2 linked regions of the Homo sapiens genome follow. The protein of the gene in region 2 interacts with the protein of the main gene of each other region in a biochemical or structural test. Each region holds a gene or a part of one and is shown on either strand. Other genes may lie near its edges.

The links.
Region 1: the proteins of SERPINB6 (region 2) and F2 form a complex in vitro, tested with the Homo sapiens proteins (one study listed by BioGRID).

What each region holds. Positions count from the first base shown.
Region 1 is NC_000011.10:46,722,121-46,725,937, forward strand, and holds part of F2 (prothrombin preproprotein), read left to right. Parts: intron 1-1,059; coding exon 1,060-1,165; intron 1,166-1,261; coding exon 1,262-1,398; intron 1,399-3,738; coding exon 3,739-3,817. UniProt on the Homo sapiens protein: Thrombin, which cleaves bonds after Arg and Lys, converts fibrinogen to fibrin and activates factors V, VII, VIII, XIII, and, in complex with thrombomodulin, protein C. Functions in blood homeostasis, inflammation and wound healing.
Region 2 is NC_000006.12:2,961,412-2,965,228, forward strand, and holds part of SERPINB6 (serpin B6), read right to left. Parts: intron 720-3,817; exon of another isoform or gene 1-719.

The sequences.
Region 1 (3,817 bases), on a different chromosome or scaffold from region 2:
AGGTGTAATCCACTGCGCCCAGCCTCATTTGTTAAATTACGTACTCAACAGACATTTTACAAAGTTCCTGCTACGTGCCAGGCACTATATCAGGTGCTGGGGATTTTAAGAGAATCAAATACAGTCTCTGCCTTCAAGGAATTCAAAATCTCAAAAGAGAACAAAAATACAAAATATTAAAATGATTGCGGCCGGGTGTGGTGGCTCAAGCCTGTAATCCTAGCACTTTGGGAGCTGAGGTGGGCGCCCAGGCCAGGGGTTTGAGACCATCCTGGCCAACATAGTGAAACCCCCAACCTCTACTAAAAATACAAAAATTAGCTGGGGTGTGGTGGCACGCGCCTGTAATCCTAGCTACTAGGGAGGCTGATGGGGGAGAATTTCTTGAATCTGGGAGGCAGAGGTTGCAGTGAGCTGAGATCATGCCACTGCACTTCAGTCTCGGCAACAGAACAAGACTCATCTCAAAATACATAAATAAAAATAAATAATTCAATAAAGTGATTGCAAGAAAAGTTCTGTTCAAGGCACCAAGAGACCACAGGAAAATGAGTGTCTGGTTTGCCAGAAAAATGAGAGATGGCTTCCCAGGAGAGGCAGAGTTCTGCCTGGCCTGGTGGGATGCATGGATGAACAAACAAGTGGGCATTCCAGTCAGAAGAAACAATCCGTGGAAAGACCCAGAGGCATGAGAAGCTGAGCTAGCAGGGACAGGTAGACCAGGGCCAGTTGAAAAGGACCTTCATCACTTTTTCATCCTGCTGGCCAAGAGAAGCCACAGAATGGAAGCTCCATGAGGGCAGGGCTGTGACTGTCCTATTGGTTGATGTGTACTGAGCACCCGACAGTGCCTGTCATATGGTAGGCACTTAGCGAATATTTGGAGGCCACTGTTGAGTGAATGGGAGAACTGCTGGTTGCAGAGGAAGAGGGGCTGGGTGAATGCAGGTTCAGGATTGTGGACCTGCATGAGCTGGGAGGTGGGGGATAGACAACTTTGCAGGGAGAGAGGAAATAAGTCCCCAGGCTCCAAGGCTGACCGGGGTGGGGTCTCCGCAGGTAACTGTGCTGAGGGTCTGGGTACGAACTACCGAGGGCATGTGAACATCACCCGGTCAGGCATTGAGTGCCAGCTATGGAGGAGTCGCTACCCACATAAGCCTGAGTGAGTGAGGGGCCGGCCTTCCCACCATGGGCTGAGAACAGGGAGCAAGCGTACCTCAAGCCCAACAGCCTCCTGTTGGGCAATTTCCTGTTCCAGAATCAACTCCACTACCCATCCTGGGGCCGACCTACAGGAGAATTTCTGCCGCAACCCCGACAGCAGCACCACGGGACCCTGGTGCTACACTACAGACCCCACCGTGAGGAGGCAGGAATGCAGCATCCCTGTCTGTGGTAAGCTGGGGGCAGTGGGGCGGCCCATGGCCAAGGCCCGGGGGCTTCATGGGGCCTGGCAGCCTGGGATGGGAACCAAGAATACTGGCTACCCAGGCACAGTGGCTCATGCCCGTAATCCCAGCACTTTGGGAGGCTGAGGCAGGCAGATCACCTGAGGTCAGGGGTTTGAGACCAGCTGGGCCAACATGGCAAAACCCCGTCTCTACTAAAAATACAAAAATTGCCAGGCGTGGTGGTGGGCGCCTGTAATCCCAACTACTCTGGAGGCTGAGGCACGAGAATCGCTTGAACCCGGGAGGCGGAGTTTGCAGTGAGCTGAGATCCTGCCACTGTACTTCAGCCTGGGCGACAAGAGCAAAACTCTGTCTCAAAGAAAAAAAAAAGATGCTGGCCACCTTCAGAGCTGGCGTCAGTCATTCAGATCATATCTGTGCCTATTGCTCAGTAAAGTCAGGGAATCAGGGGATCTGAGTGGGGGGATCTGCCAGCCTCCTCCTCCCCCTCCCCACTCTTGACTTCCTTATGGTCCAGGCTGTGGCTCATTCCAAACATGCCTCCTTTCTGATCAAGGCACTCCTCCCTCCGGGAAGCCCTCCCTAGCCATTTCAGTCCACACACCCTGTTCTGAGTATCACAGAGCAAGCCTTGTGCAGTTTGGCCCTGCGGGATTCTGTCATTATTATTTCCTTGGTGTGTTAAGTAGCTATAGCCACCCCTTCCCTGAGGCAGACCACAATAAGCATTTCTTTTTCCCATGAGGGTTGGCAGGTGTGGCTGCACTCGCTAATGCGTCTGTAGGGTCAACTGACGGAGGTTGGCCCTGGCTGGGTGGCTCTGATTCAAATAATGGGTCCAGCTGAGTCTGGCTCCTCGTTGAGGGTTGGGCCTAGATCTGCTCCACGTGCGTTCATGCTGGGGCTGAGGCTGAAAGAAGGTACCTGGGAAAACTCTTCTTATGCTGATGACAGACACAGAAAACAATGAACAGAAAAGCGTCTTCTGTCCTGAAGGCCTGGCTCAGAACAGGCACAGTCAGCCCTGCCCACGTTCCATTGGCCAGAGCAAGTATATGTTCAAGGCCAGGGTCAAGAGGTAAACTACACCTCAGCCTGTAAAATCACAGAGCAAGGGATGTGGATGCAGGCAGGGGTAAAGAATTTGTGCCGATTACCAGTCCACAAACATGGGTTAGTGTTTGTTCTCTAGGCATCCCTGTCGGGCCCATTGCTCATTCCTGGGGTTGGTCTTTTTTTTTTTTCTTTCTAAGATGGAGTCTCACTCCCTTGCCCAGGCTGTTGGAGTGCAGTGGCCCTATCTCAGCTCACTGCAACCTCCGCCTCCTGGGTTCAAGCGATTCCCCTGCTTCAGCCTCCTGAGTAGCTAGGATTACAGGCGTGTGCCACCACTCCTGGCTAATTTTTTTTTATGTTAGTAGAGACGGGGTTTCACCATGTTGGCCAGGCTGATCTCAAACTCCTGACCTTGTGATCCTCCCGCCTCGGCCTCCCAAACTGCTGAGATTACAGGGGTGAGGCACTGCGCCCGGCCTTTTTTTTTTTTTTTTTTGAGATGGAGTCTCACTCTGTCACCCAGGCTGGAGTGCAGTGGCATAATCTTGGCTCACTGCAACCTCCACCTCCTGGGTTCAGGCGATTCTCTGCCTCAGCCTCTCATATAGCTGGGATTACAGGCACACGCCACCACGCCTGGCTAATTTTTGTATTTTTAGTAGAGACGGGGTTTCTTCATGTTGGCCTGGCTGATCTTGAACTCCTGACCTCCGGTGATCTGCCCAGCTCGGCCTCCCAAAGTTCTGGGATTACAGGTGTAAGCCACTGCGCCTGGCCCCTGGAATTGGTCTTATAGCAAGTTTATCCCAACAAAAACAGCTACTATTTACTCCCCAACCCCCATACACACGCACACACATTGATGATAAATAAGTTGCAGGCTTGCAGAAATTGACCCATCCAGGTGAACAGCCTAGTGATCCCAGCAAGCGTCCTGCTGTGCAGCTATAAAAACATGACTCCTCCAGCAGCTCCAGGCAGCCACTACCAGTTAATTACAGATGGCCTAGGAGGCCAAACCTGGTTACTATCTCTGGTTTATTATGTGCCAGACACTTATGCTGTATATTTTGTTTAATCCTCTCAACAAACCTGCAAAAGTGGCATTAGTAACCCCTTTAAAGGCAAACGGTCAGAAGCCCAGAGAGGTTAAGTAACCTGAGGTCACACAGGCAGAAAGCAGCAAGACCGGGGTTCACACCCCTGTCTGTTCCGGTCCATGTGTGGTCTCACTCACTCTGCTGCCTCCTTGCCCCTCACCCACCAGGCCAGGATCAAGTCACTGTAGCGATGACTCCACGCTCCGAAGGCTCCAGTGTGAATCTGTCACCTCCATTGGAGCAGTG
Region 2 (3,817 bases):
GCAGAGCCCTGGGAACACCAGTATAAACAAAAGTAGCCATTACACGGAACTGAAGCAAAATTGGGCCTATTTTTGGTTCTTTGGATTCTAGATCACAAGAACTGCCCGCTTATCAACTTGAAGAGAAACAATTGGTAAAACAGGGAAACTTCTAGGTTAAGAATAAGAAAAGAGGAGATGCCCCAAAGCAAGAAGCACAGCCTGTGAAGTCCGTGTCTCAGGACTCAAAGCCAGCAGACACCCTGACACGTGGGGTTTTCCCTGGCCTGGGGACATGGACTTCTGTCTTTGTCCCCAAGAGGGCTCAGCCCACGTGGAGAGGCTGCCAGGTGAGATGGCTCCTCCATAAACCAAAAAAAAAAGACAGAGGTTAAGTACCATGTCAGCTGGCCAGGGGAAGGTCCCACATGCTCCCCCAACCCCATCCTAGACTATTCTACCGTCAGCACACGTTTTCCCCTCAAATGCTGAAGGACTCTTACGCTTTTTTTTTTGTAGAGACAAGGTTCTTGCCACCTTGCCCAGGCTGCTCTCCAACGCCTGGCCTCAAGTGATCTTCCTGCCTCAGCCTCCCAAGGTGCTGAGATTACAGCCATGCACCACGCCCAGCCTAAAGGACTTTTAATTCAAATGGAAATGTCCACCTAAGAAAGGCTAATAATAAAACACTCCGTCTCCGGTAATATCCCGGAGAATCTGTTTCAGGCGCTGATCTTTATATCAGTAACTTCAACAAAGCAAAGCCACCTTTGTCTGAAGACACGCCCACTGGGGAGGTGCCTGTCTGGCCAGCCCAGGTTACACCATCTGGGGCAGAGGAGAAGTCGGTGCACATGAGTTTCACTGTGTCAGGGGATTTAATTTGAAATACTGAACTGGAGAAACCAAAGCAGGATATTCGGAGGAGAAGTCAGTGCACATGAGTTTTACTGTGTCAGGGGATTTAATCTGAAACACTGAACTGGAGAAACCAGACCAGGATATTCGGAGGAGATGGCACGAGTCAGGAGGAAGACAGGGTCTCTAGTCCTGGCTCTGGTACCCTGGGCAAATCACTGGACTCCTGATACCAGTTTCCTCTCTGTATGAGGAAAAGCATATACCAGATAATCTGGGTTCCCTTCCATCTCTAACATTCAATAATTGTTAATACCAAATGCAGAAGGAAGAGCAAAAATGTAGCTCAATTTTCAAAGCCCACAGTGAGGTCAGTAATGATATTCCATTTCTTAGTTGAAAACACTGCTGACAGCCGTGAAAGGTAAAATTCTATCTATGCCTTACATAAAAATTGCTGAGCAACAAAGAAACAATAAATCAAGGATGTCCTAGAGATTTAATTTTCTTAGCAGAAACTATGTTAGTCATTAAATAACTGAATATCCTACTCCTGATAAACACCCTTACGTCAAACAGCAAGTGGTACTTCCCATGCTTCCTTAACAAGGTAAGAATTACCTACTTCAGCAGCCACCAGCACAGCTGATGATAGAACATTAGTCCCTTAACTCCCCAAACAGGAACAAGATAAAAATATCTGTCGTCCCAACCTTGTGTAACTTTGTTCAGATAGTTCTGGCAAAGGCAAATACAACTCATGAAACATAATGAGAAAGGAGATTGTCAGAAAGGAGACAAAATGAGCACAGTTAGCAAACAATTTGATGGTCTACCCAAAAAGCAGCCAGAATCAGTAAAATACTCTTAAAACTGAAAAATAATGGAGTAACTGGGCTACTAAAAAAATAGGAAAAACAGACCCCAGTAGAAACACGTGCAAAGGACATTAACAAATTTACCCCCAAAAAAGAAAGACAATAGCTAATAATTATATTTAAAAGTTTCAACTTCAGAAAAAAATATCACTTTTTTGATATATACTATGTGCTAGGTCCACACTGAAAGACCCTTACCCTCTGAGATAGCTGCTGAGAACACCTACGTTTTATAAGCAAAGAAATCGGGCCTTAGCTCTTTAAGTACCATGTCTCCAGAGAACCCAGGGCAACAATGGCAGAATGACGGCTGGAAGCCAGGACCGCATGGCTCTGTAGTTCACTCTCTTAACACCATGGTGCACAGCCTTCCCAAAAAGCAATGGTGGAGAGTACATTAAAGATGCCTTTTCAAACCATGAACCTTGCAAATACAAAAACAATTCATGCTAATACTGACAAAGACAGGCAATCCTTCTCACGCCATGCAAGTAATACGGAGGCAGCAGGGACAGAGCTTGGCCCGTACCCACTCCCGTATTTTCCATACATCCCCCACGCCATCACACCTGCCCACCAGACCATGCAAACCAGGGAGGGAAACAAGATAAGCCATGTTCCACCCCAAATCTTACCCAAGGGAGTTAAGCCTGATGCCCACATGCATACAGGATCAGAACGACGATCCTGACCTCTTGCCTTGTTGTATTACTAAAACCCTCTCCTCAGGGGCTCATCTGCCATGCCCTGATCATGACACATCTGTGCTAACATGATGTTCCCCGGTGCCTGCCACTAGCGTGTGTAATGCTGCTGACACACCTCATGACTATCCATGTCACCCTAAAACACCAGGAACACCTGTCCCGAGGGCCAGCCCGGGAACTCCTGCCCCTGTGCCGCTGCCCTCCTGCTCCAGCATAAGCCCATTATAAAGCCTTGTCTGGGACACTTTCTCTGTCTCATGTCAATTTCCACTGCATGAGAATCTAAGAACCCACGATCAGTAACAATACTGTAAATTGGTACACCAGTATTTCCTGAGTATGATTTAGAATTATGTCAAAAATAAAAGTAAAATACAATAAAGTGAAGGAAGAAAAGAAAATGTCATGGAAACATTCATACTATCTGAATTAAAAATTCCACTTCTAGGAATTTCACTGAAGGTAAAACTCACAGGTTTTGTACATAATAAAACATTATGTACAACATTATGGGATATAAATAGGGCTAATAATAATAAAAATCACAGTAATGACATGGGAATACACAAGATTACATTAAAAAAGATATAAAACTATACATACAATTTAAATTTATCCATGTAAATTAGGAAAAAAGGTAAGTGTAGGCACAATTTACAGACAGAATAGAGGGAAATACTATACACCAAATGTTTCTAACGGTAATTTTTATGTTTTTTGTGTTTTTCTGGATTTTCACATTTTCTATAGCATATAATTTATGGAGGGGGTTGGTTAACTCTTCTTTTTATGAAATTACTATATATACATTCAGTTTAAAAATCAGGTGGTGTTAAAAGAGATGTTATAAAAGACAACAAGCTCCTTCTCAGCCCTCCCAACTCCCCAGAAGCAATCACTTCCAAACCCTTTGCTCTTTCTTCTGGTATTTACCACCATATTTCTACATAACGTGTATACTACTATTTTTGACCTAATAACTTTATCATGTTTTATTTTATGTATGTATTTATTTTTATTAGGGTAGGGGTCTCACGCTGTCGCCCAGGCTGGAATGCAGTTGCATGATCACGGCCCACTGCAGCCTCGAACTCCTGGCCTCAAGCAATCCTTTAGCGTCAGCCTCCTAAAGTGCTGGAACTACAGGCACCCGGCCAAATTCTAGACATTATCTATTGCCTTCCTAATCTAGAGGCCGAGGGCCCGGTCCCGATCCACAGGTTTGCTTTATTATCACTAAATAGCATTCGATGCTAAGCCAGGTGGTGGGATGGGAACCCATTTCCTTTTTATGTAATGCTGATTTGCCTTATATTAATAGTGCCTTTCCCCCCTTTCCTTAGTTTTCTATGTACTATGTATTTTCAAATTCTCCCCAAATGTTCTACAGGTCAG